2 linked regions of the Homo sapiens genome follow. The protein of the gene in region 2 interacts with the protein of the main gene of each other region in a pairwise test. Each region holds a gene or a part of one and is shown on either strand. Other genes may lie near its edges. The genes, in order: ENOPH1 and ZNF280A.

The links.
Region 1: the proteins of ZNF280A (region 2) and ENOPH1 interact in binary tests that used the Homo sapiens proteins (3 or more experiments, as listed by UniProt).

What each region holds. Positions count from the first base shown.
Region 1 is NC_000004.12:82,450,286-82,465,205, reverse strand, and holds the end of ENOPH1 (enolase-phosphatase E1), read right to left. Parts: intron 14,164-14,920; coding exon 13,961-14,163; intron 10,485-13,960; coding exon 10,352-10,484; intron 8,292-10,351; coding exon 8,168-8,291; intron 5,226-8,167; coding exon 5,086-5,225; 3' UTR 4,029-5,085; downstream 1-4,028. UniProt on the Homo sapiens protein: Bifunctional enzyme that catalyzes the enolization of 2,3-diketo-5-methylthiopentyl-1-phosphate (DK-MTP-1-P) into the intermediate 2-hydroxy-3-keto-5-methylthiopentenyl-1-phosphate (HK-MTPenyl-1-P), which is then dephosphorylated to form the acireductone 1,2-dihydroxy-3-keto-5-methylthiopentene (DHK-MTPene).
Region 2 is NC_000022.11:22,514,100-22,529,869, forward strand, and holds the start of ZNF280A (zinc finger protein 280A), read right to left. Parts: upstream 6,172-15,770; 5' UTR 5,990-6,171; intron 3,777-5,989; exon of another isoform or gene 3,681-3,776; intron 1,603-3,680; 5' UTR 1,532-1,602; coding exon 1-1,531. UniProt on the Homo sapiens protein: May function as a transcription factor.

The sequences.
Region 1 (14,920 bases), on a different chromosome or scaffold from region 2:
ACTTAAACAACCAATGGGTGAAGGAAGAAATCACAAAGGAAATTAGAAAATATATTGAGACACATGAAAACAAAAACACAACATACCTCAACCTATGGGATACAGTGAAAATAATGCTCGGAGGGAAACTCAGAGCTGTAAATGCCTACATTAAAAAAAAAAAAAAAGAAAATGGCCGGACACAGTCGCTCACGCCTGGAATCCCAGCACTTTGGGAGGCCGAGGCGAGCTGATCACCTGAGGTGAGGAGTTCAAGACCAGCCTGGCCAATATGGCAAAACCCTGTCTCTACTAAAAATACAAAAACTAGCCAGGCGTGGTGACAGGTGCCTGTAGTTCCAGCTACTTGGGAGGCTGAGGCAGGAGAATCGCTTGAACCCAGGAGGCGGAGGTTGCAGTGAGCTGAGATTGCACTACTGCACTCCAGCCTGGGCAACAGAGCGAGACTCCATCTCAAAAAAAAAAAGAAAAAAAAAACTCACAAAGCAATTACATAAGTTTCCACATTAAGGAACTAGAAAAAGAAATGCAAATTAAACCCAAAGCAAGCAGAAGGAAATACGATTAGAGTGGAAATAAACAAAATAGAGAATCAACAAAACCAAATGTTCTTCTTTAAAAAGATCAACAAAATGGATAAATCTTTAGCTAGACCTCATAGGCCCTCCTGACCTCCTCAACTTAATCTTACTTCTGTTCCCACCACTCCACTTAGACTGCAGGGCCACTGCTATTCTCAACTGAATTCTTAGCAGCAATTGATAAATTTGAATAGTTCCTTCTTTAATGGGCTCCCCTGCCACTCTCCTGGTTTTCCTTCCTCAGTGCCCAATACTTTCCCATCTCCTTTGCTGGTTTCTTTGCTTGGCTTGACCTCTAGTGTTGGAGCCTACGGGCTGTTTAGGCTCTCTTCTCTATCAACAGACTCTTCCTAAGCAACCCCATCCCATGGCTTTTAATAGCATCTCTATGCCAGTGAACTCTCAAATCTGATCTCCAGCCAGGCCAGCATTCTGAACTCTAGACTTATATCCAACTGCTCTTCGGTCATGTTGACATCAGGATCTACATTGGCTTTACATTATTATCAGCAGCACTGCTATTTTTCCAGTAGTATCATCTATCCAGTTGCTTAAGCTAAAAATGTAAGAGTTACCCTTTCAAATCCAATCAATCAATAAGTGGTCACTGTCATGTCTAAAACCTATTCTGAATCTTTCCACTTCTATTTCTGCTTTTACCACCCTAAGGCAAGCCACCACCATCCCTTACCTTCATTACTACAACAGCCTTCTCAGACCCAGTAGATTGACTCTCTCAAGTGCCAATTTTACCCCCTAATTGGAGAAGAGATGGAAGTGTTCTGTTTGGAGAGGTTGCAGCAATGGGGCCTGGCATTCCAGAGTCTGGCCAGCGTCGTGGGCATGAGCTACAGTGGCAATGGTAGCAGGCTTCCTGAGCTAACCACTGTGAGGTGTCCTCTAACTCCACAGTCCAGTGGTAGTTGCCCTGACTCTTCTCCCAGTTCTTCCACTGATGTTGTATACACCTAACTCCTTGTGATTTTTGCCTGCAGCACTCAACCCTGATATACTTAACTCACCTTCCTGCATGCAGTCATGCCCACTTATAAACCATTCTCCATTCCATACAGAATTCCTTAAATATGTAAACCACTCAGGTTATCTTCTGCTCAAAGTCCTCCAGGGGCTTTTTACCATACTTAGAATACAATTCAAACTTCTTACTGGAGTACAAAGCACTATCATCTGGCTTCAGCCCACTTCTCTGATGGTATCCAGCCACTGGGCTCTCAATTCCTGAAAAAGGCCAAGCTTTGCCCTAGATCTGTGCTATGCTGTTCCATCTGCATGGAACACCAGTTCTCCTAGTTTCCTACATGTCTTCCATGTCATTTAGATTAGATGTCACCTTCTCATCACCCCTCCTGTAAAGTTATTCTACCCTGTGTTCTCTGCAGAGCGCTTACTAGTATCTAATTTTTTCTTGTCTTAGTCACCATTGTTTCTCTTCTCGAAAAATGTATGCACAATGGGAGTAGAGAGGAACTTTGTCCCCTCATAGCAGATCTGGGATGCAAGGTAAATGCTTAATAAATATTTAAGGAATAAATTTGGGTTGAATTTGTAAGGTAGAAATTTTACTTCTGTCAGTTACTCCAAGTGTTTTAGTAAAAACTCCACGTTATTCTTAAATATTAGGTTGAGGATAATATCACTTTGCCATCTGGGCACAGGTGGTAGGTTAACAAACTTTTGGAATATATTATACTCAACTTTGTACTCGTGGGAATAAAAAAAGCCCTGAAAACAATCCCTTTTTAACACTGCCGCTGGAAAAAGGGGCTAAAAATCACTAATTTTTTATTGAGGAAAAGGAATATTAGATAGTTGGATTTCATTCAGGATTACTGCCATTTTTTCCAAACTACTCCAACTCTTGCAACATCAAGCTTTTGGCTTGTAAGGATAAACAAAATATAGTTTTCTCTCTCTTAGCTCCATCTGCTGTATTTGGCGGGCGACGGGGCGGGGGTTGGGGGAGGGGGGGAGGAGGGGTGGAGCCTCACACTTCATATCAAGTCTGGAGAAACAGCACCATCTGCTGGGGAAAGGCTGCCGTGCATCTGCCCTGGCAATAAGCCAGTGGCTTTCAACCTTTCCTTGTGCAACTACACATTTGACATTCTGCGTAGCAACTAAAACCCGCTTTCCAGACCAAAAAGAAGTCCTGCTACTCCAGAAATGTTGATAAGATTAGAGAATCTTCTGTTAAGGGCTTCTCTTCTAAAAAACCAACCTGGGCTTTGACCCAAGATTAGAAATCAGCGCCACTGTAGGAAAGAGAACAACAGAGGTACATCTGGATTAATAAACAGGAATAAAAAGAGCCACAACTTTAAGACGCTTTTGTCCTCCATATTCTCTGCAAACAAGAGGCTGAGGCCTTTGTCCTCTTTTTGGAAGTTCCAGAGGTTTTTTGCCTTCCTTCCCCTCATAAGGACTATGAATTCATCTGACTTCATCTTCTAGCTCATTATCCACATTAAAAAAAGTTTTTTAATGATGCATAACTGTGCATATTTATGGGGTACACTGTGGTGTTTCAATACATGTATACATTGTGTATCACTGCTTACATTCTTAGATAGGTATTTTTCCTCTCTTGCCAATCTACTTTATCTTTCAAATTCTTCCTACGACCTTTCTCCATCATTTGTGAATGGTTTTCCTAGGATCTAAAAACGATTCCATTCAACTAGTTTTTCCCTTACTTTGCAAAATAAATCTGATACTTCAATTTTCTCTTAATTCCTGAAATCTATTGATTTTCTGTCCTCCTTACTCAGTGTACATGGGTAGTAAAATGCCTCTCCACCTCAATCCTTTGCTGGCTAGATGCTGTGTGCCTTCCTTTTTATTCAATTCCTTTCTAATCTAGATCCTAGTGCCTAATCTTCTCATTTCTTCATTTTCCAACTACTCCTTAAATAACATTAAGATATACCCCTTTCTGCCATCTGCCTATGAGCTTTCCAAAAAAGGTATTAAGTTCATCCTTTTATTACTATTTGTGGTTTTATCATCATTTACAAATTATTCCCATTTCTAAGATGTACCTAAACTCATTTCCTTTCTTTTTTATTCATATATTTTCATAGACCCTAGATTTCTTAATTGGCTACTAGATCAAAATTATCAACATAAAATCTTTTATATCCCCTGTCCTCTCATAGTTCTAAGACTTCTTTTTCCTTATTCAAAGCATTTCTAAAATTGCTCCTCCAGGATTCGTGAGTTTTTCTTGATTAGTTAGGAGAGTAACTCCCTCCTTCAAGCATTACCTTAGAGACCTCAAAGTTAAGATTCTCAAAAATATAAGGAACTCCACTCATATCCTGAATGCTTACTATCCAAATGGAATAGTAACCTTATATGTATACATAACTCAAATAATAACCATGAATTGCCACCGGCACTCCATTAAAACACACACATGATACACGATTAAGATAAGAGCTAAATATTCTTGTTTTTCAGTTTCTCTTTTGCTATGGCGGCATGTGGATAGAGTTCAGGAACCTATATAAAACTGAGTGAAGAAAAAATGCTTTTATTAATCACAACATGAAATTAACATGACATCGTATTAGAATTAAACCAGGATAAATACTGCTGTTATAAAATTTACATTTCTCACATCCATTCCAGAGGAAAATCTTACATATTAGGGCTCATCTTAATGTTATGGACTGATTTCAGTAAAACTTTTTAAATAGTAAATAGCAATTAACGTATTCTCAAACTGTGCTAAGTAGTTAGAAAGGCAACTATAAAATCTATAATGATAACACGTGGCAGGATTAGAACTGTTCTGTTAAACATTAAGAACCACATCTCTGTTTTAGATGTTACCTCAGTGCACCTTTTTCACTGGTAAGGCAACTGCTTGCTGTGGGTGCCACAATGATTACCAAGTTTCTTCTTAAGTAAAAGACACTTGTTTGATCAAGACTCAAGTGAGTTTTCTTTCCCAATTTTGTTCTTTTGAAGCAGAAGGAAATACCTTGGTCTTTGATATATATAAGGAGGCAAATATGAAATACAGCTGTTATAATCTTCTAAATCACAAGGGCAATGAATTATTCATTTTCTTTGAAAATATTCAGTCTTTGAAATATTTCATTTTTAAAATAACAAGGCTTCTGAATAATTTCTCAAAACTAGCTTTCCATTTTAGTACACGATTTGATAAACATAGCACATTAGATAGGTATTTAGCAATTTCTTCTACCAACTACACTTTGCCCTCACTAAGGGTTAGAGTATGATTTGAAACAATTTCTACATATAAAGCATCTTTAAATAAGTTTTGTGTTCACTGAACTGAGACTTCTTTCACTTATGTACCTATGGAAGTTAATCTGAGCATACACATATATACATACTTGCATACATATGTGTACATATGTTTTTTAAGTAAGTTACTTTTACCATTAGAATAAACCTAGACACTACAGGGACAACTCTGGGGAACAGGGCGGTCTGCCTTAACAACCCTTCTCTAGGTTGAGGAAGGCAGGTATAGTTCACTGAAGGATGTGATGAGGCTGTAGTAAGTCTTCTCATCATCTGTTAATCCTGCGTTGCCTGGTCTCACCACCACAGCTACGTGCACATCTGCTTCCTCAGCAGCACTGGCCTCTGTGAAAAATCAAAGGATGTGTGTGTGTCAGAAACACCAAAAAATGATGTCTGAGATTTGCAGCAAAGTCAGCAGGGGGATGTGGGGATGGAAGAAATGAATTTGGCCCTGATTTGATGACTGTTGAAGCTAAAAGATGGGCACCCTGGGGTTGACTATATTATTATCTCTTTTATGTATGTTTTAATTTTTCCATGATAAAATTTTAAAAAATACGTAACTGTACTTGACAGAAGAGAATGGCAGTGTATCCTACACTTCTGAGCTTTATTAAGTACTTATGAATGCAGAAGGATGGAGCCATGTTCTGTCCTACACCTTTCCTCCACTTCCTCCCATCAGCCCATACCGAGAACTGAGCTGTTTCCCAAAGGACAAGCTGTTGGTAACACGAATTAAAATGATATGGGGCTGGGCACGGTGGACCCAGGAGTTCACTTGAACGCCAGACTTGAGTCCAAGAGTTCGAGACCAGCCTGGGCAACATGGTGAAACTCTATCTCTACAAAACAATACAAAAATTAGCCGGGCGTGGTGGCGTGTGCCTGTAGTCCCAGCTACTCAAGAGTGCTGAGGTGGGAGGATTGCTTAAGCCCAGGAGGTCAAGGCTGCAGCAAGCCGAGATCGCACTACTGCACTCCAGCCTGGGTGACAGAGTGAGACCCTGTATCAAAAAAATAAAAACACAAAGAAGATAATGGGACAAATGGAATCCTATGGTTTAATCAGCCCAAGATATCTGCTCTTACCTCCAGACCCTAAACATGTCATACTCCCAGCCTAGAATGGAGCAAGTTAGAGTGGGAAATGGGATACAGGCCTGTGATAAGAGAGATGGCGCTTACTAGGACAGATAGAACAAAACTGGTGAGAAATCTGGAATATATATATATAAATCCCGTGGAATTTAGATTTGGTGTAAGAGTAATCACCATTAGTTTCTCAGCCTTTGGAGAAGAGTCACAGCACCTGAACAGATTAACTGAAGGGCAGTCGTGCTGAGAGAGTTAAGTTCCCAGGAGACACACTGGGGCTGAGCTGTTTCTTCCACCCACCCACCTCCTCAAGTGCCTGCTTTCTGTTCTGCCTGTGAAAGGGCCTGTCACTTTCCCAGAGCAAACAGTACTCAAGACTCCCCTCTCTGTGTGGGAATGTCTTCTTCAGACCACCTCTGCAGATGCCATTGGAGAAAGGCAGCTATCTTCCACTCACCCCTACTTCCTAGCCTGACTGCCCTGAGCAAAGTTTTCATCGTGACTGGCAACCCGGGAATATGACCAAGTTAAGCCATCACAATCCACATGGGACTTGACACTACAAGTGGCCGTTCCATATTCAGGCTTTTTATCTAATTCACTGCAGGGCAAGTTTTATCCCTAAGCATCTATTTGCTCTACTGTTGTAATGCTGAGACACTTTTTCATACTTGGGTATTATTTGGGATTTTATTTTTTATTTTATTGTGTTTTTTCAGAAGGGTCTCTCTCTGTCGCTCAGGCTGGAGTGCAGTGGCATGATCTCGGCTCATCCCAACCTCCGCCTCCCAGGCTCAAGCAATTCTCCTGCCTCAGCCCCCAGCCGAGTAGCCAGGATTACAGGCGTGTACCACTACTGCCTGGCTAATATTTGTATTTTAGTAGACACAAGGTTTCACCATGTTGGCCAGGCTGGTCTTGAATTCCTGACCTCAAATGATCCACCCACCTTGGCCTCCCAAAGTGCTAGGATTATAGGTGTGAGTTACCGCGCCCAGCCATTATTTGGGATATTAACTTAGTTTTTCATTCTGCCTCAGCAGTGGAAGTCTGGGCATGTGGTACCAAAACAGGACCAGAGAGAAAAGAGCAAGCAGGCAGACAGCTCCCTGCCTCATCCCAGCTGCCGATGACCCAAGTTCTGGCCTAAGTGTGTATGGGGCCAGCAGAAGATGAAGGGCAGGAATAAAACCTCCTTACAGAGAATCAAAGGGAGCTAATTTCATTTTGAAGCCAATTTAGGGATTATTTCTATTCTCCAAAATTAGGAATAATTTCTACAATTGCAACTGAGGAAATGGCTTAAATGAGAAGAGAAAGATCTGAAATTATAGATGTACTATGTGATCCCAAATACAAAAATTAAGTGGCTAAACACAAGAATATGAAGAAACTATAAGTGGTCTAAGGACAGGGGTTATAATTCTTAATATTGAGATAGAGCAAAGGTCCGGGGATCACAAATGGAACTGTGCATTTAATCCCAGAACTGGCTGGCTCAACTACCTACCCCTTATACTCACAACCCCGCTTGCATGCTCCTTCCCATGACAACTCCTCTAAGTCTTCCTGTTAATTTCCTGTGTCATAGTGTGTGTGTGTGTGTACATAGCGATGGCTGGGAAATCACGGACAAGGAGTTAAACGAGAAGAGTTAGTCTTTTCAATGCCACTTCCCCACATGCAACCCCCAGAGTTGGTTCATTCTTTTTTGAGACAGTCTTGCTCTGTCACCCAGGCTGGAGTGCAGTGGCACAAACACGGCTCACTGCGGCCTCGACCTCCTGGGCTCACCTGATGCCCCTGCCTCAGCCTCCCATGCAGCTGGGACCACAGGAGTGAGCCATCATACCCAACTAACTTTCTGAATTTTTCTGTAGAGACAGAGGTCTTACATTGTTGCCCAGGCTAGTGTCGAACTCCTGGGTTCAAGCAATCCTCCTGCCTGAGCCCACAGAAGTGCTGGGATTACAGGCATGAGCCACCAAGCCTGCCTTCACTGCTGTGTTTTTTTTTTTTAATTCAAACATGAACTTGAACCAGACACTGTTTCTTTATATAAAACCGTAAAACTGTTTTATTTTTCAAGGATCCCCATATAAAGTTTCTTTAAAGAGGCAATGTATTTGTAGTGCCAGGCTCAGTTCATATCCTGGAGTATATAATATAAGAAGTCTATTACTCACCTCGAGTAACATCTGTCAGAAACAAAATGTTGTTGGTTGAGCACCCAATGCTGTCTGCAATCTTTCGGTAACTTTCACTCTCTACTTTGTGTCCAATCTTGGTATCAAAGTGACCATCAACAAGCTGAACAAAGAGAAGGGGAAAGACTGGCAATACAAATACACTTGCATGCCCCTCATGCCTTTCTCTGAAATACATGACAATCACAATTACTTCATTCGTTCAGTATTTTCTGAAAATCTACTTAATAGGGAACTTTATGGAGGCTATACAAAGTAAAAATAAAGATTTTATAGCAACAGACATTTGGAAGAAGAAAACTACCAGCTCAACATACATAAGATCATTTCATAATCTACCTGGTTTTCACTACCGTTCATTTTACATCTGAAATAGTTTAAAATAAACATGCCCTACATCCTACCCTTAAAGATGATTTGCACTCAAACTACTCACTGGATTGAATTTTACTCCTGATGAAAGATTCTGAACACTGTCCTTTAATCTTACGATGAAAAAATTTCTCTAACCTGCCTCATGAATAAGCTATTATTTTACTTACAAGAAATTCTCATTTTCTAGTTAAAACGTTTTGAAATTCTACCCAAGGGCTCGTCTATGTCTCTGCCCTCTTGGAAACAATTGGAGTCAAATCTGTAACTTGCTAATTTGACCAACAGTAATTAAAATAAGTCCATATTTAGGGTCAGTTACTAAGATGTGATCTTTTGAATGTTTTCAGAACTTTTCACAAACTAAAAACAAGCATAGTAAGCACTCAAACTGGGTTTGGCCAATGGGAAGGTAAAAAAAAAAAAAAAAGTAATTTTAAGTTTTTTTTTTTTAAAGTTAAAACTGATTTTGCTTATTTTCTTTTTCTTGCAGTTTGCCTCACTTGGTAACTAGAGAGTAAAATTCTTATTAGTGAACTCAGTAGGTACTTTTGTCCTGTCATGATTGTCAGAGAGAGCAGAAAAGAAGTTGTATCTGTATTAAGAGAACAGTCACCAATGATTAAAGGGTTTCATTATTAATATTTGATTTAAAAATAAGACAGAAAGTAGGAAAATACTAAAATTAGAATATTACAACCTCCAAAGCCAAAGTGTTCTTTGCACATGGTAGGTGCTCAATACATATTTATTTTAAAAACTTGTCTGGCCAAGTTACCTATTGTAAGTAACCTATTATAAGTTCGGTCTATATTCAAGTTACCTATTGTAAGTTAAAATAAGTAAATTTTTTTTTTTTTGAGATGGAATCTCACTCTATCGCCCAGGCTGGAGTGCAGTGGCACGATCTCAGCTCACTGTAAGCTCCGCCTCCTGGGTTCAAGCCATTCTCCTGCCTCAGCCTCCCGAGTAGCTGGGACTACAGGTGCCCGCCACCACGTCCGGCTAATTTTTTTTTTTTGTATTTTTAGTAGAGACGGGGTTTCACCATGTTAGCCAGGATGGTCTCGATCTCCTGACCTCGTGATCCGCCCACCTTGGCCTCCAAAAGTGCTGGAATTACAGGCGTGAGCCACTGCGCCCGGCCGGTAAATATTTATTTTTAAAAAGTATCTGGTCAAGTTACCTATTGTAAGTAACCTATTTTAAGTTAAGTCTATATTCCAAGTTACCTATTGTTAAGTTTGGTCTATATTCAGCTAATCAGCACTTCTTTTTAAAACCCTAAATGTAGTCACTTCTTTCACTGATCACCCCATCCTCCAGGGGGTGCAGGGATGATGACACAGAGGGGCTAGCAAGAATTTTCTCATGTACATGAAATGCAACAGGTGACGACCTTATTACATTTAAAAATGTGCCTGGTTCTCCTATAATAATGCTGGTTCTTCTTAAATGAAATCTATATTTCTTCAAAGAGCCAGAAACAAATGAGTGCACCTTGTTCTCTGCTGTATTCAAAAAGTCTTTATATATTTCTCAGGACTGCACAATCCTATTTTGCATCCTAACTGATTTTATTTTTCAAGACACAGAATAAACTTTATATAACAACCTTATATAGAAGAAACTGTAAATACAATATAATTAAAAGTGATTATTTTCTTCTTACCTAATTTTAAACAACCAAAAAAAAAAAAGCATTCTATTAGTTCCAATTAGTTTTCCATTAAGATTCATTATTTTATGCTTTGATAGCGTCAAAACAACAAAGTAAACTAGGTAACCTACCTCAAGAATATCTCCCTCCGTAGAATGCCCGAATAACAGTTTCTGTGCCTCCACACTCCCTGAGGAATAGATGTACACCTTCATTCCGGCCTCTCTCCACTTCCTGACTGCTGGAACTACATCTGCAAAGAACCTAGAGGGAAGACCACTAAGTTAAAATACAGGAACACCTCATCTAGCCAGATAAAAACCTGTCAAAACAGATGCCATATGTTTCTCTCTTTGTGCCCACATGGTAACCTGAGAAGCAGCTCCCTGAGACTACAAACTCCTGCAGTTCTAATAAACATACTGCCCAAGTTCCAGGCTCACAGCAGATTAGAAGCAACAATCTATGTGGAAAGGAGGATAGTTTTGAACAGACAGCCACTAGTGACAGTAAAAAGGGACTACAGATAAAAGGATGAAATGGGAAAGTGTTTTTTAAATTCCCGAAGAACTCAAAAAAGCAAACAACAGCAATGATATAATATAATCTTTGATGTTCTTCATGACAAGAAAAGGTTAAATTATGTCCACTGTGCTTTAAGAAAGCATGGAAATGCTTTTAGAAAGATCTGCACCCAAAATAATCAAAACAAAGTTTGAAGGCTCAAAGCTATAAACTTATGATTAGCTAGAAAATGGAATTACTTTTTTTTGAGACAGGGTCTTGCTCTGTTGCCTAGGCTGGAGTGCAGTGGCATGATCTCAGCTCACTGCAACCTCTACCTCCTGGGCTCGAGTGATCCTCCCACCTCAGCCTCCCAGGTAGTTGGGACTACAAGCATGTGCTACCACCCCCAGCTTTTTTTTTTTTTTTTTAATTTTTTGTAGAGATGGTGCTTTGCCATGTCACCCAGGCTGGTCTCAAACTCCTGGACTCAAGTGATCCCCCCACTTCAGCCTCCCAAAGTGCTGGGATTACAGGCATGAGCCACTGCACCCGGCCTGCATTTTTTGAGAACTAAGAAAACAATGTTTTATTATATGGGGAAAAAATTACATAACAAGTCAGTTGAGACTTGTACCAACTCACATTAACCAGTCAGCAAAAGATGTCTTTTTCTGACTTCTGACACTCAGTCTCTCTTACCAATTCTAGTGTTTTCCATAGTCATGGAGGAAATTAACATCACAGGAGAAAGGTGAAAAGAGAAGCACAAAGAACTTGGGTTGTAGAACCAGTCATCTCTAAAAGATTACCTGGAAAATGTCAGTGGAGTCTTCCGCTTTATATGTATTAACATGCTTAACATGTTGCACTAATTGAAGGAAAGAGATCAACGTATTCAAAACCAGTACACATGTAAGTATGTTATTCTGAGTACTAGTTTGCACTCATGGAGACAGGATTTTTCCTGTCTTCAGCAGTTAGTTGTATAATTAAGGAACCAAGACCAAGAGAAGTATGGGCTAACTACCGGGTGCACAGTCTCCTGTCTCCACTTTTTTGAGTGCTTTACAAAGTGAACCTGGCTGATATTCCCAGATCACTGGCATATCCTGAAATTCCAGTCCATCCTTTAAAAGGTAGAAGCTCCTCGTAAAGTACATAAATAAAGAAACAACATCTCATTTGACAGAAACACAAAAGAAATATATGCAGCTGGAAACAATCTTGGATCCTAGGGTTTACAGCAGGCAATGGCCTAAAATCCTTAAGAATTTCACACCCAGGTGCAGTGGCTCACACCTGTAATCCCAGCACTTTGGGAGGCCAAGGGGGGGCGGATCACAAGGTCAGGAGATCGAGAGCATCCTGGCTAACACGGTGAAACACTGTCTCTACTAAAAATACAAAAAATTAGCCGGGCGTGGTGGCACACGCCTGTAGTCCCAGCTACTCGGGAGGCTGAGGCAGGAGAATGGCGTGAACCCAGGAGGCGGAGCTTGCAGCGAGCTGAGATCACGCCACTGCACTCCAGCCTGGGTGACAGAGCAAGACTCCGTCTCAAAAAAAAAAAAAAAAAAAGAATTTCTCAGCAGGCCTGGCACAGTGGCTCACGCCTGTAATCCTAGCACTTTGGGAGGCCAAGGTAGGTGGACTGCCCTGAGCTCAGGAGCTTAAGACCAGCCTGGACAACATGATAAAACCCTGTCTCTACTAAAATACAAAAAATTAGCCAGGTGTGGTGGCACGCACCTGTAGTCCCCGCTGTTTGGGAGGCTGAGGTACAAGAATTGCTTGAACCCAGAGGGCGGAGGTTGCAGTGAGCTAAGATTGTGTGAATGCACTCCATCCTGGACAACAGAGTGAGACTATCTCCAAAAACAAAAATAGGCCGGGAGGGGTGGCTCATACCTGTAATCCTAGCAGTTTGGGAGGCTGAGATGGGGTGGACCACTTGAGGTCAGGAGTTCAAGACCAGCCTGGCCAATATGGTGAAACCCCATGTCTACTAAAAATACAAAAATTAGCATAGTGGCAGGCGGCTACTCCAGAGGCTGAGGCAGGAGAATCGCTTGAACCCAGGAGGTAGAAGTTGCAGTGAGCTGAGATTGCGCCACTGCACTCCAGCCTGGGCAAAGAGCAAGACTCGGTCTCAAAGCAAAAACAGAAACAAACAAACGAAAAGAATTTATCAGCAATATGGTATGGACAACATAGCAAGACCACACCTCTACAAAAATGTTTTTTGAATAGCCAGGTGTGGTGGTGCGTGCCTGTGGTCCCAGCTAATGAGGAGGCTGAGGCGGGAGGTTCACTTGAAGGCTACAGTGAGCTATGATGGCACCACTGCACTCCAGTGTGGATCACAGAGCAAGACCCCAGCTCTAAAAAAAAAAAAATAGGCCAGGTATTGTGACTTACGCCTGTAACCCCAGCATTTTGGGAGTCCAAGGCAGGCAGATCGCTCAAGCCCAGAAGTTTGAGACTAGCCTGGGCAACATGGTAGAACCCCATCTGTACTAAAAATACAAAAACTAGCTGGGCATGGTGGCACATGCCTAGTCCCAGCTACTCGGTAGGCTGAGGTGGGAGGATCACCTGAACTAGGGGAGGTCAAGGCTGCAGTGAGCCATGATCATGCCACTGCACTCCAGCCAACAGAGTAGGACCCTGTCTGAATCAATCAAGAATTTCTCAGTAAGTATAATACTCAAAAGTCTCCTCAGGCAGGAGTGCTATTAGGAACTCCATAACCAAGACTCAAAGAATCTGTGGAAGTTGCTCAAAAGAGCAAAGAAGAACGTGGTAGTGCGGACATCCTCTGAGTAACCTCAACACGGTGGGGCACAAAATTTCCTATGTCTCATAGAGCAAAAAGCAGGTAATTAACAGTCCAGGCAAGCAGCCCAACGGAGCTGTCACTCATGTGCTAAGAATCAAATATGACTTAGTTCAAGGAAGTCACCATTTTCTAGGAAGCTATTTTAAACGGAGACTTTGACAAGTCCTTCAATCAACCCACAAGACCAGACTGGCAGGTCCGGGTAATCTAGTCAGCTGAAATATTTTAGCCAAGTTTTGAAAAAATGAAACAAAGCTCACTTGTTAGACTAAAAAGAGTGTGGATTTTTATCTGTTTTACCAGTCTTGTGACTTACGCTGGAAAGAGAGGACTGGTGAAAAAACATATTTGGATTTGGGACTGGTGAAATGTTTAGGCTGACTCAAGCACATACTCTGCTTTCATGCGCCCAGCTGTGAATGCCGCCCTCCACATGTGGCCCTGCAGCTGTTTGAGTGCAGTGGTCTTTCGATCCAGGGACATCTGCCAGCACACATTATCTACCACGGCCTGGATCATCTGTTGCAGATCATCCACTCCATTCCCAGATGCTGCAGGGATAGGAACAGCCCCATCCAGGTGGGCGTCCTCTTCAGCCTTTAAGTCAGAAACAACATGATGTTTGTTTTTTGCTTATTCAAAAAACAGTCATTTAAAACGAGACCCAAAAACCCAGCAGAACAACTTTCTCCATCATTAGCCCTAGTATGGCTGCAAATTGAAACATCATATACTTTGGAGCTGATACAAATGATTCCTAAAAGAACCTGGATTAATAAATTTACATTACCTTTCCTTTTGCTAAAAGCTGAAATTTAAACTGAGACGCATGTTGTATATGAGAAGAGAGAGCACATAATGATAGAATTAAGATTTGATTTGTTGATTCACTACTGGGATCAACAAACCAGGACTTTAACTCAATCTGATAATTTTCTCTGCACTATAACTAATGGAGAAAGAAACAAAGAAAATCTCATAAATTAGTTTATGCCTGGAATTCAGCAAAAAGAAGCTAGTGAAGTAATGAGGTTGGTTCACATTCAGTCTCCTATAATCTCCCACATCTTGCAAAAATCCTAGTAGCCACTTAGAACAATGACCTTGTGACAAAGCAGTCCAATTTCTAAAGATACATGTGTACATATTTATATACAATAATGGGGGACTATGTATGTATGTTTCAACAAGGTTTTGACAACAAAAAAAGGTAAGGGAGGAAAGTAAAGTAAGTCCTCATTTAACATCATTGAAAGGTTCTTGGAAACTGTGACTTCAAGTGGCATGACCTTCTCAAGTAATGTCATTTCCTTCAACATCATTTTGTTATAACATTTATGTGGAGAAAAAATTG
Region 2 (15,770 bases):
TAACAATAACGGAAGCCATACCACTTGATCCTGGCTGAACTGAAGTTTGAATAATAACTTTTGTTTCACTAGGCAACCCTTGCAGTTGCTCCGGCTTTTTAAATGTTTGATGGTCCTTGGTTTTGTGCTCTATTTCCTCCTTCAACGTCAAAAACTGTAGCCGGCACTTGGAACACTGAAGGACCCTCCTTCTGCTGTGCCTCCAACAATGATTCATGTATGGTATTGCAGTTTTGAAAAGTTTGAGACAAAACAGACAAAGCAAATTCTTTGTGTTTTCATGGCACGTTCTAAAATGTGTTTCCACATCAGCAAAGACCGACGATCTGTAATGGCAAACCTGGCACACATAAGGCATTTCGCCAGGCTTATGATGGTCCTTCATGTGTTGTAAGAGGACCTGATCTGTTTCAAATGACAATTCACAGATTTTACAGACAGCAGAGGGCCCCATGGCGATGTGTACACTATCAATGTGACACTGTAGCTGGAAGGGAGTGGGAAACTGCCGGTGGCAGTGCTGGCAGGTGGTGTGGTCTTCCCAGCTGTCGTTCCTCTGCTTCTCAAATTCCAAATGATGCTTCATGTGATTCATAAACTTAATATTTTTTAGAACTTTCACGCAGCTGAGGCATTTAAAGGTGGTGTGAGTCTTCTGTTCCGGCTGCCCATCTCCTTTATGCTGTCCATAGTAAAAGTCGCTAAGTAACACGATGGGATTTTCTTTCTTGGGATCAAAGGTCTTGTTTTGACTTGCTAGACTTGAAATGTCTGTCATTGCCAGGGCAGACTCACTTGCTCTCTCTGGATCTGTAAGATTGAAATGTGCCTTTCCATTAGCATCAGGCCAAGGAAATGTTACTCCATTCTGAACATGGTTTGATGAGTTGCAGATCCCCTGTGAGGGTGTATTTGTGCTTATTGTAGAAGACATATCTGAAGGGACCACAGCTAAAGAAGGTACCCCTGGGATTCCATCCCTGAGTTTAACCCTTTTGGAATCTCTGCTGTTTATATCTGAAGTGGAAAGTCGCTTTGAATCAGGAGAACTCTCATTTCTGCCTCCTCCAGAGACCATAGCTCCAACTAGACACTGAGTCCCTGGGGGGAGCGAGTCTGAGGAACTGGGAGAAACAACTTGTGGTGAGCTCATTTTATAACCAGGTTCAGATGAAGACTTCATAGTGACAGGACTATCTGTCGATCGCCCCTCAGACAGAGAAACCGGCATGATGGCTTTTGCCATAGAGGTCACATGATTTGCAGGCTGCGACACGTGAGCAGGATATTGACGGAAGTGGCCTTTCTTTCTTCTTGAATTTGAGCCTGGGGTGACTCTGTTCAAAATGTTTGAAACGACTGGTTTTGAATTTGAAATCATCCCGACAAAGAGAACTTCAGCATCTCTATGTACATGCTCCACCCCAACATAGATCAGATCTGGATCTTCATCATCCTCCTCCCTTTGTTTGGATTCTCTCAAATTCTTCTTTGGTGATTCCACTTTCTTACACAAAAAGATATCTCCCATTTTCAATTTACTTTTTGCTTGAAGCCACTGGTCTCTTCAACTTCCAGAGCTGTCTTTTTACAAATTGCCACCTAAGTGCAACCATGTGACAATAGTCAATATTTATTTCGAAAGACAAAATCATTACTTTATTGTATCCTCCCTTAAAACACTGAGATAACCATCAACATCTCTATTTTACACGTCAGAAATGAGGCTTGAAACATTTTAAATGGCATAATAATTTCAAATTTACCTGTCTCTCCTCCCCTGGTCTTCTGCAGTTGTGAGGCAAAGGAAGCAAGATTTCAGGAGGTGCAGATGGAACATCTCAGAGTGCTTGCCTCTAAATTTTGCACTCTAGATGCCTCACTCACCTCCTCCTCATCCCACAGGTACTCTCTCAGATGTCTAAGGTTTCTAACCAACTTGAACAAAACTTCTCTCAAAAACATTCTGCTCCTAGCCTGGGCAACATAGCAAGACCCCATCTCTACAAAAAAATTTAAAAATTAAAAAAAATTAGCTTGGCATGGTGGTACACACCTGTGGTCCCAGCTACTTGGGAGGCTGAGCCAAGAGGAACACTTGAGCCCAGGACTTCAAAGCTATGTTCATGCCACTGCACTCCAGCCTGGGCAACCAAATGAGACCCCATCACACAAACACACACACACACAAATCACAGCACACACACACACACACACCCTTTGCTGTTCCTGTAATGTTCCTTTTCTCAGTAAACTCAGTTGCTCAGTCTACAAACTTCAGAGTCATCCTTTGCCAGACTTTCTCTCATACACTACAGCCAATCAATTAGCAAAGCTAGTCTGCTCTATCTTTTAAAGATATCCAGAATCTGACTACTCTCTTCCACATCTACTGCCACCTCCCTGATGGAAGGTACCATGTTCTCTCCCTGGATCACTGCAGAAGTTGCCAGTCTTAAAAGTTTTGTCAGATCTCCCCATGGTGGCCCCAATGCCCCTGTTAAAATATACAGGGGAGCAAGTATATTTCGCTCTTAAGTCTTCAATGACTTTCCATTTCATTCATAGGAAATACCAGCAAACTTTAAATTTCCCCATGGAACCTTAGGTCATCATCGCCCTTGCTAACTCCTCTGTTGCTCTGATGCAGCCATCCTGAGCTCCGTGAATCTGGAACACAGCAGGCCTTTTTCTTTTTCAGAACTTTTGTTGTTCCCGGACGTTGCGTGCCTCTTTCCCCAGATTAACCCCATCTGGGCTCCTGGTCTGCCTCAGTCCCATGGTTCCTCTTCAGCAAGGCTTACCTGACCACAATATCAAAAATCACAACCTCCTTAACTCATATGTTCAAACCCTCAATGTTATTTTTCAACTTAGCATTTATCACTGCCTACCACACAATATGTAAAATATATCTTGCAAGCCCAGGAGTTTGAGATTACAGTGAGATATATCATGTCACTGCATCCAGCCTGGGTGACAGAGGAAAGGAAGACTCTGTGTCTTAAAACAACAACAAAAAATGGGACAGGTGCAGTGGCTCGTACCTGTAATCCCAACACTTTGTAAGGCCAAGGCGGAAGGATTGCTTGAGGTCAGGAGCTCGAGACCAGCCTGGGCAACATAGCAAGACCCATCTCTACAAAAAATTTAAAAATATAACTTGTTTCTTTTCTGTGTTTACCCACTAAACTGTATGCCACACGAGGGCAGGGAGTTGTGTTTCATTTACTCCTCAGCTTATAGAGCAATGTCTGTCATACTGTGCATGCTAAATCTTTGTTAAATAAATAGTAGCTGTTATTAATATGATCATTTAGGTGTACCAGAGGCTCTAATCCATTATTCCAGATTCTCTAAGCATTTAATGAAATCCAAATCCAAATGATTTAATACTGTTGTACAAGGGAGAAGGTAAACCTGTGTGTATGTGTGTGTAAATTGAAACAAAAGTTTTGTCAAATACTCTAATACCTTCACCTTACCACAAGGGATAGGCTCTGATACCTTCTATGCCATATTTTATTGATTCTAAGGTATAGGCTTAGATTTCCATTTTAACATCTCTAAATCAGATTGCATCTCATCATAGCATCTCATCAATATAAAATACATTTCATAATTTGTTTTTGCAGTATATATTTTTATTTCATAGTGGAATCAAAAATGACATATCTCAGATCCTTTTGTGAGGATAAGCGTGATGCTTGGGTTTTCACTCATGTGAGATGTGCTTCCCTCAAACCTTGTTATATCAGCATGTTTAACATCTGATGTAAAAAAAAAAAAAAAGGAGAGTAATGTATCTTTTATAATTGATGGCATCTTTTTTTTTTTTTTTTTGAGATGGAGTCTCGCTCTGTCGCCCAGGCTGGAGTGCAGTGGTGCGATCTCGGCTCACTGCAGGCTCCGCCCCGCGGGGTTCACGCCATTCTCCTGCCTCAGTCTCCCGCGTAGCTGGGACTACAGGCGCCCGCCACCTCGCCCGGCTAATTTTTTGTATTTTTAGTAGAGACGGGGTTTCACCGTGTTAGCCAGGATGGTCTCGATCTCCTGACCTCGTGATCCGCCCGCCTCGGCCTCCCAAAGTGCTGGGATTACAGGCATGAGCCACTGTGCCCGGCCAATTGATGGCATCTTATAGTCAGTGAAAAATCCTATTTCTTTTTGTAAGCTGACAGCACACTAAACTTGTTTTGTAGTTCTCTAATGGATATCAGCTACATTTTGGCAAACAATGGTTTAAGACAGAAATTGGAAAATTGGCCCTTCCCCTGTTTTTGTACAGTCAGGAAGCCAAGAATGTTTCTTACATTTTTAAGGTATTGTTTTCTTACTTTTTTTTTATTAAGATTTTTTTAAACTTGTACATTTTTAAATTTGGGGGAATAAACATGCAAAAGGAAGCGGGGCGCGGTGGCTCACGCCTGTAATCCCAGCACTTTTGGGAGGCCGAGGTGGGCAGATCACTTGAGCTCAGGAGTTCGAGACCAGCCTGGCCAACATGGTGAAACCCCTTCTCTACTAAAAATACAAAAATTAGCCAGGCATGGTAGCAGATGCCTGTAGTCCCAGCTACTCGGGAGGCTGAGGCAGGAGAATCTCTTGAACCTGGGAGGTGGAGGTTGCAGTGAGCGAAGATCGCACCACTGTGCTCCAGCCTGGGTGACAGAGTGAGACTGTCTCAAAAAAAAAAAAAAGAAAAAAGGAATATTTTGTGATGTGAAAATTATATAACATTCAAAATGTCAGTGTTCACCATAAAGTGTTGTGGAACACAGCCATAATCATTTTTTTAGTGCTGTTGTCCATGGCTGCTTTCACACTTCTATGACACAGTTGAGTACAGTAGTACCCCCTTATCTTTGGGGCATATGTTCCAAGACCCCCGAAGTGGATGCTTGAAACTGCAGATGGAACCAAATTCAATATATACTATATTTTTTCATATATGTACATACCTATGATCAAGCTTAATTTATAAATAGGCACAGTAAGAGGTTAAGCATAACAAAATAATTATAACAATATACTGTAATAAAAGATATGTGAGATAGGGCGTGGTGGCTCATGCCTGTAACCTCAGCACTTTGGGAGGCTGAGGTGGGTGGATCACCTGAGGTCAGGAGTTTGAGACCAGCCTGGCCAACATGGTGAAACCCATCTCTACTAAAAATACAAAAATTATCTGGGCAGAGTGGCGAGCACCTGTAATCTCAGCTACTTGGGAGGCTGAGGCAGGAGAATCACTTGAACCCGGGAGGCGTGGGTTGCAGTGAGCCGAGATCGCACCGTGGCACTCCAGCCTGGGCGGCCAGAGTGAAACTCCGTTTCAAAAAAATAAATTAATAAATTAAATTAAAGGTATGTGAATGCAATCTCTCGCTGACAAAATATCTTTATGTACTGTAGATCTTGGCAACCTTAGCATACGATTTTGTTTTCTTTCCTTATTATGTTAAAAACTTTCCCATTTTCACTTAAAGGAAGCAAGCACTTTACAGCTTCTTTTTGGCATATTTGAATCGCCAGCATTGCTACCCTTGTACTTTGGGGCCATTATTAAGTACCATAAGGGTTAATTGAACACAAGCACTGAGATACCACCAGGACAGTCACTCTGATAACTGCGACCGCTCCTAAGTGACTAAGGTACAGAGAGCGCAGCCAGCCAACAGCATGGGGACTCAGGACAAAGGGAGGATTACCATCCCAGGGCAGGGCTGACTCAAGAGCTTATCACACTACTCAGAAGGGCTGGCGACTTAAAATTTATGTATTGCCTATTTCTGGAATTTTCCAATTAATATTTTGGAACCTCAGGTAACTGAAAGCACAGAAAGGAATACCCTGGATAAGGGAAGACTACTGTAGTTGAAGCAGAGAATTGCAATGCCTAAAATATTTGCCATCTAGTCTTTCACAGAACAAGTTTGCCAGCTCTAGTTTTAGAGGAGCAAAATGAAAGATAGCAAATTTCTCAGCTCACCAGTTCCTAAAGTTGCGAGTGCATCCAGATGATTCAGTGCAGCTCAGTATGTTCCACTCTGGGCCGCAAGGGAAAGCGAAGCTGGAGCTTCCTTGTCTCCACCTCCCGGAGAAATTTGTCCAGAGACCGGCAGCACTGCTTCCGCAGGCGAACAACGCCGCTTGCTCTTCAAAGTCCTTTCTGAGGCCAGATCAGAAGGTCCCACTCCTTTTAAGCCCCTTATAGCCCAATCATTTTTCCAGTCACGTGTCTGAAGCAGTTTATCCTGATTGGATTTTCAGTTGTTGTCCAGCTTGATTGCCAAAAGTTTTCCTCCAATTGCTACTCAAAGGAAAGAATGAGGGTGGGGCTTCAGGGCTGCCTTCCAGGTTGATTGAGCTGGTGATGGGCATCCTCCCTCCTCTCTCTCTTGTTCAGAGTCTACCACTTTCTCTGCAGTGTGCCTGGGCCCTCAGCTATTGGGGATGAGAAGGGATGCGGAGTGGGAGGCAGTCCACATGTCTGTTCCAACAAAGCTCAGAGGTGAGCGAGTTGAAAAGCAGATGTCTTTCCAGTAGGAGCCCCAGGGGACAGGGTGGGTCTCAATCTCACAGCCCTTGAAGACCGAGCTCCCGTAGGAGTTTCCAGGTGTCCAAACAGGGTCCTCACTGTGAGTCTTCAACAGCTTTCTCCAAGCAGCAGCCCACTCCCTTCTTAATCCATTTCCAGGGGTCAAAGGTCTATCCTGGTTCCCTCCCATGCCCTCTCACTTCCTTCCCTCTGTCTCTCCCTCCTCCCTCCTCCTTCACTACCCCCTCCCTGGAACCTTCTCAGCTGAATTTCAGGCCCACCCTTTCACTCTCTTTACAGGCTTTGCAACACAGATTAGAAAGCGGGGGAGGGGGAGCCTCAAGAGTCCCTTGACAGGTAAGAAATATTTATATTTCCACCCCCATTCCAACGCAATGCAATCAAGTCTCAAAATTAAAACGAAAATCATTTGCAAATTAAAATGTTCTAAAGTACCATCTCCTGATAAAACTTTAAAAATACCTTTCTGGGCCGGATGTGGTGACTCACATCTGTAATCCCAGCACTTTTGAAGGCCGAGGCAGCAGATCACATGAGCCCAGTAGTTTGAGACCAGCCTGGCCAACATGGTGAAAACCTGTCTCTTATTCTTTATAAAGTAAAATACAAAAATTTCCTGGGCGTGGCCGTGCGTGCCTGTAATCCCAGGTACTCGGGAGGCTGAGGCAGAATAATCACTTGAACCCAGTAGGCAGAGCCCAAGGTGGTATAAAAGTGTGTGACCCATGGTCTTTATTCTTGTCTAGGGACTGGGGAAAGGCTGCTTGAGGGCATTGCAAGTAGCCAAGAGCATGACCCTGGAAAGGAAGGTGAAATGAGGCCCGCTACTGAGGTACACCTGTAGTCCCAGCTATCAAAGGCTGAGGTGAAAGATCTTTGAGCCCAGGAAATCCAGACAAACCTCAGCAAAATATCAAGACCTCTGTTTCTACAAAAGAAAAAAAATTTTTTTTAATTAGCCAGGCATTGTAGCACGTGCCTGTAGTCCCAGCTACCCGGGAGGCTGAGGTGGGAGGATTGCTTGAACCAGGGAGATCGAGGTTGCAGTGAACTATGATTGCATCACATACTTTAGCCTGGATGGAAGAGAGAGACCTTGTCTCATTCATTCATTCATAAATAAATAAGCAAGCAAAGTGAAATGAAGTGCAAGACTTAGACAGTAAAGTTCTAACAGGGGCCGGGCGTGGTGGCTCACGCCTGTAATCCCAGCGCTTAGGCAGAGGCAGGCAGGTGGCTTGAGCCCAGGAGTTTGAGACTAGCCTGGGCAACCTGGCAAAACCGTGTCTCCACAAGAAAATACAAAAAATTAGCCTGGGTGACAGAGTGAAACCCTGTCTCAAAAAAATAAAAAAAGAAAAAAGAAAGGAAGACAGAGAAAGAAAGAAGGAAAGAAAGAGAAAAAAAGGAAGGAAAGAAAGGAAAGGAAATGTGTATTCTGCAGAACTGATATTCACTCCTTCCTCTTTTCCAGAAGCAGAATCCTGCTAGGAAGATTCCAGGAAGCCTAGGCAGTGGTCAGGGGCTGGCTCAGGTATAAAGCAGGCCCTTCCCCTGAGACAGAAGGTTGTGGCAACAATGCTTGTGGGAGGTGAGAAAATTGAGAGGAGTGTCTAGAAATAGCTCGGAGTTGCATCTTATTTTCTTTTGCTCAGTTTTAAAAGTCCCAAATAAGACCACATCTAGCTGTTCTAACCAAGCTATTCTAACCCACTAATCTAGTAAAAATAAAATCACATGGTCTGAATATAAATTTGCATCAGGATACATGCCTTTCCTATGAAACATTTATGTTTCCTTATAAAATGTATCCTCCTTTTCTGCAGAAAACTAACTGTAATGCATCCAAAGGTCACAGAATGTGGTGAAACATCCTCATCATTGATTTTTTTAAAAAATTTTATTTATTTATTTATTTGTTTTTTGAGACATGGTCTCACACTCTGTTGCCCAGGCTGGAGTGCAGTGGAACGATCATGCAGTCTTGATGTCCTGGACCCGAGCGATCCTCCCACCTCAGCCTCCCAAGTAGCCAGGACAATAGGCAGATGCCACCATGTCTAACTGATTTACTTTTATTTTTGAGTAGAGATGAGGTCTCACTATGTTGCCTGAACTGGTCTCAAGCTCCTGAGCTCAAGCAAACTTCCCACCTCGGCCTCCCAAAGTTCTGGGATTACAGGCGTGAACTACCCGCACCCTGCCCTCCATAACTGATTCTTTTTTTTCAGACTTCACTCTGTTGGCCAGGCTGGAGTACAGTGGTGTGATCTCTGCTCACTGCAACCTCCGTCTCCCAGGCTCAAGCAATTCTCGTGCCTCAGCCTCTCAAGTAGCTGGGATTACAGGCATGAGCCAACACGCCCGGCTAATGTTTGTATTTTTAGTAGAGACAGGGTTTCACCATGTTGGCCAGGCTGGTCTTGAACTCCTGATCTCAGGTAATCTGCCCACCTCGGCCTCCCAAAGTGCTAGGATTAAAGGCGTGAGCCACCACGCCCAGCCATAGCTGATTCTTTATCAGTCTGCCTTTGGGAAGTTTCCACTGGGAAACACTCTCCAGGACTGTTTCGGACCAGCCCCACTTTCCAAACAAAGAATTCCAGTGATGAGATTAAAGCTTGTCACAATATGTTTTTCAAATGACTGGTAGAAGCAGACCTTAAGATTAAAAAAGAAGAAGAAAAAATGGCTGAAATCTTGAATCCTTTATTGCTTTAAGGCACAGAATAGGAAATGGATGGCGCGTCGGGAATGGATGCAGGTCAGGGACAGACCATCACTCATGCCACCTTGCTGTGTTTATGAAACAGAGTGCTAGAAGTTAAATTTGGGGGATGCACAAAGAGATGCCTAATCAGATGAACTCAGAGTTGGAATTGCTGTTTGTGAGACAGTTACATCAAAGGAAGAAAAGAAGGAGAGAAGAAAGGTGACTATCAGGAGAATTTTCCAGCCAGAAGAAAGACACAGAGGCACAGGCATTTCATGGCCTGAAAAAGGAAGAGCACAGAGACAAGTGTGGCTCCAGTTAAAGGACCAGCGGAGATGAAAGATGAGGTCAGTGATTTGGGTAGGGGACATAGCAGTTAAGATATTGTTGGTCAAGGCTGGGCGTGGTGGCTCACGCCTGTTAATCCCAGCACTTTGGCAGGCCAAGGCGGGTGAATCACGAGGTTAGGAGATCAAGAGCATCCTGGCTAACACAGTGAAACTCCGTCTCTACTAAAAATACAAAAAAATTAGCCGGGCGTGGTGGCGGGCGCCTGTAGTCCCAGCTACTTGGGAGGCTGAGGCAGGAGAATGGTGCAAACCCAGGAGGCGGAGCTTGCAGTGAGCCGAGATCACGCCACTGCACTCCAGCCTGGGCGACAGAGCAAGACTGTGTCTCAAAAAAAAAAATAGACGTGAAGGATGCAAAGATGCGTATGAGTGACAGTATGTCTAATCTCCTACTTTATGAATGGCCATTTTCAAATTCTATCATTCCTTCAATATTTATTAATTCTTTTGTAAAGAAGAATGTTGATTTGTCTATCAGTGTGGCACCAGGAAGATTTATGTTATTTAAAAATGTTATAAACAGATACTGTCATTATTTTTTTGATGCTTCAAATGTCAAGTGAGAGTCCCTTTACCATGCTCCCCATATCTTTATTTTTCCTTTTTTGAGAGAGAGAGTCATGATTATTCATTTATTTCACACCTGATTCTCATTACATCAGTCTGAGAGAGGAAGGAGTTATGCACCAGCGCATACAATTGTGCTGTTCTATTATCCTTCAGACAGTATTGGGATCTAGGTTCTAGTTATTTTTAAATTCAGGGATCTGAATCAGAGCCCAAAGAGGTTGACTGCTGCTGCTGGGGACTGGGGGCTGCTGGGAGAACAGCAGAAAACAGGCATGGAGCTGACCCTGGACGGTTCATGCTCCAGAACTCCGATCTTGGTACCTGAGGATCTTTCACGGAGATCATGGACAGGGGTGTGACAGCAGTTCCTCAAAGCAAATGGGGATGGCAAACCTGGGGCTGGTACTTGGGAGTTGGAAAAACAACCATATTTGCACAAGGAGAAACTGAAAAACCGCTGTCCTTCCATCTGTATCCCAGAATCCTATGTAGAACCATGAGGACAGGGCCAGGGTTGGTTCCTTGGTCTCTGTTTGTCCTCATCAGTAGTCCAGTAGGAGTCCTGCAAACTTATCACCATCTGGAGACAGTGCTGCCAACTCTTCTTTATGCCCCACTGCTTGAGATGCTAGTCGATTGCTTTAGACTATTCATGATTCTTCTTCCTCAACTCTTCACATTAAAGAAATTCCTAGCCAGGTATGGTGGCTCATGCCTGTAATCCCAGCACTTTGGGAGGCCAGAAGTTGGAGACCAGCCTGGGCAACATGGCGAAACCCTGTCTCTACAAAAAAATAGAAAAATTAGCTGAGCGTGGTGGTGGGTGCCTATAGTCCCAGCTACTTGGGAGGCTGAGGTAGGAGGATCACCTGGAACCTGGGAGGCAGAGGTTGCAGTTTGCCGAGATCACACCACTGCATTCCAGCCTCGGCAACAGAGTAAGACTGTCTCAAAAAAAAAAGGAAAGTAATTCCCGTTCTTTGATGAAACTCTGGATCTCCCGGTCATTCCGTGTTTTAATCAACTGTTCTCAGGGTTTTCTAGTTCCTTGGTTTCATAATTTCAGTCTCAAGTCTCACTTTCTCTGTTTTTATTCCTGAGTTTCCTCCTAAGGTTCTTTTCATTGCAGCCACAGGCCTTAGTCCAGGGTCTGCAGAGAGCTAGTACTTACTCTGCCCAAATGGAATCCAAGAGCATCAGAAGGTGCCCGAAGGTGGAAATGTGTTTCTGCTCTCTGCTTTTGGCAGTCTTGCTCTCCATGTCTTTTTTGACATGCCCCCTGATACAGTTTGGATGTTGTAATCAACCAGATCTCGTGTCAAAATGTAACCCCTGATGTTGGACATGAAGTCTGGTGAGAGGTGATTGGATCATGGAGGTGGATTTCTCATGAATGGTTTAGTACCATCCTCTTGGTACTGTCCTCGTGATAGTGAGTGGGTTCTCCTGAGACCTAATTGTTTTAAAGTGTGTGGCACCTCCCGCATCTCTCCTGCGCTGGCTATGATATAGCTATTATGGAAAGCAGTACGGTGGTTCCTCAAAATATTAAAAATAGAGCTACCATATGATTCAGCAATTCCATTTCTGGGTATATATCCGAAGGAAATGAAATCTATATGTTAAAGAGGTATCTTTACTCTCATGTACATTGCAGGACTATTCACCACAGTCAAGATGTGGAATCAACCTAAGTGTTCATGATGAATGGATAAAGATAGTGTGGTATGTATACACAATAAAATGGTATTCAGCCTTTCTTTCTTTTTTTTTTTTTTGAAACAATATCTTCCTCTGTCACCCAGGCTGGAGTGCAGTGGCACGACGATCATAACTCACTGCCGCCTTGAACTCCTGAATTCAAGCAATCCTCCCACCTCAGCCTCCAAAGTAACTGGGACCACAAGTGCATGCCACCAACACCTGGCTAATTAAAAAACAAATTTCTGTAGGGACAAGGTCTCACTTTGTTGCCCAGGCTGGTCACAAATGCCTGTACTCAAGTGATCCTCCCGCCTTGGCCTCCCAAAGTGCTAGGATGACAGGCAAAAGCCACCATGCCTTACCACTATTCAGCCTTAAAATTCAGCCTTAAAATCAAAGGAAGTTCTGTTATTTGCAACAACATGGATAAACCTGGATGACATTATGTTAAGTGAAATAAGTCAGACATAGAGAGACCAATACACAGTGTCTCACTTATAGGTGGAATCTAAAAAAGTTAAACTCACAGAAGCAGAGAGTAAAATGGTAGTTATTAGGGTCAGGACGGGTAGAGGATGGGGAGAATAGGCTAAAAGGTACAAAGTTTCGGTTAAACAGGAGGAATTATTAGTTTTGGAGACCTAACATATAGTCTTACAGCATGGTGACTATAATTAATAATAATGTATAGTATATTTTAAAATTGCTGAGTGAGTAGATTTTGAATGTTCTCATCACAAAATTATAAATATGAGGTGATTGCTATATTAATTGGCTTGATTGATATGTTAATTGGCTTGATTTAATCATTACACAATGTGTGCACATATATTTATCATGTACATCATAAAATATATACAAATTGTCATCTGTCAATCAAAATTTTAAAAAAACATTGAAGATCTGGGCACTAAGTATGCTCAATTGTTATTGCTTCAGTAGACAGACCTAGAAAATACAGTGTACTCATATTTCCATTTAAATTTAGTGCCATGCCAGGGATTCTTCTTTCATTTAATTTTATTTATTTTTATTTTTATTTTTATTTTTTGAGACAGGGTCTCACTCTGTCTTCTAGGCTGGAGTGCAGTGGCGCAGTCTCGGCTCACTGCAACCTCTGCCACCCAGGTTCAAGTGATTCTCCTGCCTCAACCTCCCCAGTAGCTGGAATTATAGGTGCATACCACCACGCTCGGCTAATTTTTTGTATTTTTAGTAGAGATGGGGTTTCACCATGTTGGCCAGGCTGATCTTGAACTCCTGACCTCAGGTGATCTGCCCATCTCGGCCACCCAAAGTGCTAGGATTACAGGTGTGAGCCCTTGTTCCCGGCCCCTTCCTTCATTTTATATTTTTATATATACTATACTCAAGTGATCCTCCTGCCTCGGCCTCTGACATGGTTTGGCTGTGTCCCCACCCAAAGCTCATTTTGAATTGTAGCTCCCGTAATTCCCACGTGTTGTAGGAGGGACCCAGTGGGAGATAGCTGAGTCATGAGGGAGGTTTCCCCCATACTGTTCTCATGATAGTGAGTAAGTCTCATGAGATCTGATGGTTTTCTAAGGGGTTTCCCCCTTTCACTTGGCTCTCATTCTCTCTTGCCTGCTGCCATATAAGATGTGTCTTTTGCCTTCCACCATGATTGTGAGGCCTCCCCAGCTACGTGGAACTCCAAGTCCATCAAATTTATTTTTCTTTATAAATTACCCAGGCTCAGGTATGTCTTTATCAGCAGTGTGAAAATGGACTAATACAGCCTCCCAAACTGCTAGGCTTACAGGCAAGAGCCACCATACCTGGTGACTATTCAGCCTTAGAATCAAAGGAAATTCTGTTATTTGCAACAATATAGATAAACCCAGTTGGCATTATGTTAAGTGAAATAAGCCAGACATACAGAGACAAATACACAGTGTCTCACTTTAATTTTTTTTAATTAAATTTTTTGTACAGATGGTGTCTCGCTATATTGCCCAAGCTGGTCACCAATTCCTGGATTCAAGTGATCCTCCTGCCTTGACCTCCCAAGTGCTTGGATTACAGGCATGAGCCACTGTGCCTGGCCTATTTATATTTTTAAATCCCATCATTCTTATTGTAAGACAAGTACAAGAATCTCTCCTAAGTCTAAATGTATTAGGTCATTCTTGCATTGTTATAAAGAAATACCTGAGACTGGGTAATTTATCAAGATGTTTAATTGGCTTACAGTTCTGTGGGCTGTACAGGAAGCATAGTGGCATCTACTTGTGGGGAGGCCGCAGGCAGCTTACAATCATGACAGAGGGTGAAGGGGAGCAGTCATGTCGCATGGTGAAAACAGGAACGACAGAGCAAGAGGGGAGGTGCTACACACTTTTAAACAACCAGATCACTGAGAACTCACTCACTATTGGGAGAATAGTACCCAGGGGGATGGGTGCTAAACCATTCATGAGAAATCACACCCAGGATCCAGTGGCCTCTCGCCAGGCCCCACCTCCAACAGTGGGAATTACATTTCAATATGAGATTTCCGTGGGCAAACACATCCAAACTATATTATTCTGCCCCGGACCCGCTCAAATCTCATGTCCTTCTCGTATGTCAAAATACAATCATGCCTTCCCAATAATCCCCCGAAGTCTTAACTTATTCCAGCATTAACTCAAAAGTTCAAAGTCTTATCTAAGACAAGGCAAGACTCTTCCACATATGAGCCTATAAAATAAAAAATAAGTTAGTTACTTCCAAGATACAACGGGGATACAACCATTAGGTAAACATTCCCATTCCCAAGGGAGAAATCAGCTAAAAGAAAGGGGCTACAGGCCCCATGCAATTCTGAAACCCAGCAGGGCTGTTGTTAAATCTTAAAGCTCCATAATAATCTCCTTTGACTCCATGTCCCACATCCAGGACACACTGATGCAAAGGGTGGGCTCCCAAGGCCCTAGGCAGCTCCATCCCTGTGGCTTTGCGGGGTTCAGCCCCACCCCTGTGGCTATGCGGGGTTCAGCCCCTGCCACTACTCTCATGGGCTGGCATTGAGTGCCTGAGGCTTTTCCAGGCACAGGGTGCAAGCTATGGGTGGATCCACTACAGCTCCACTAGGTAGTGCCCCAGTGGGGACTCTGTGTGGCAGCTCCAACCCCACATTTCCCCTCCACACTGCCCCAGTAGAGGTTCTTTGTGAGGCTAACATTTTGTTTGTTTGTTTTTTGAGAGAGGGCCTTCCTCTGTCTTCCACCCTGGAGTGCAGTGGCATAATCATGGCTCACTGCAGGCTTGAACTTCTGGGCTCAATAGATCCTCCCACCTTCCACAGTGCTGGGTTTACAGGCATGAGCCACTACGCCCAGCCAAAACGCGTGCACATTCTTACGTCAACCTAATAACAGAGAGAAGCTCTTTAAAAGAAAATGATGTGTGTTTGGCAATAGAGCATTGCAATGAAAATATGTATGCCCCTATGTGTGCATTTGGGGAGGTAAAGGAAGACAAAGGTTTTTAAAGGAAGGATAAGAAGGATTACATAATTGTTTTGAGATAATTTTCCTTGACTACAAAGATCAATAGCAAGGGTGACGCTAGTCCAAGGTTGGAGAGGCAGTTGCTGGGCAGATGCCCTTATGGAAGTATTTTTTGCTTAAGGTTGCGATGTCCTTTGTACAAGGTTGTTTCTGTAGAGTCTTTTGTCATTGTTTTTGTTATCAGGTATGCAAGCGTGAAAACACTCTCTTCATGGCCTTCCCAGGCTCTGTTTGTCAAGTTTTGCTTTGTTGTTGTTGTTGTTTTAACATTAGTGGCTCCATTTTGATTCTGACAACTTTCACACTTCTAAGAGTTTAGAAAATATTCTGTTACTGGCCAGGCGTGGTGGCTCACGCCT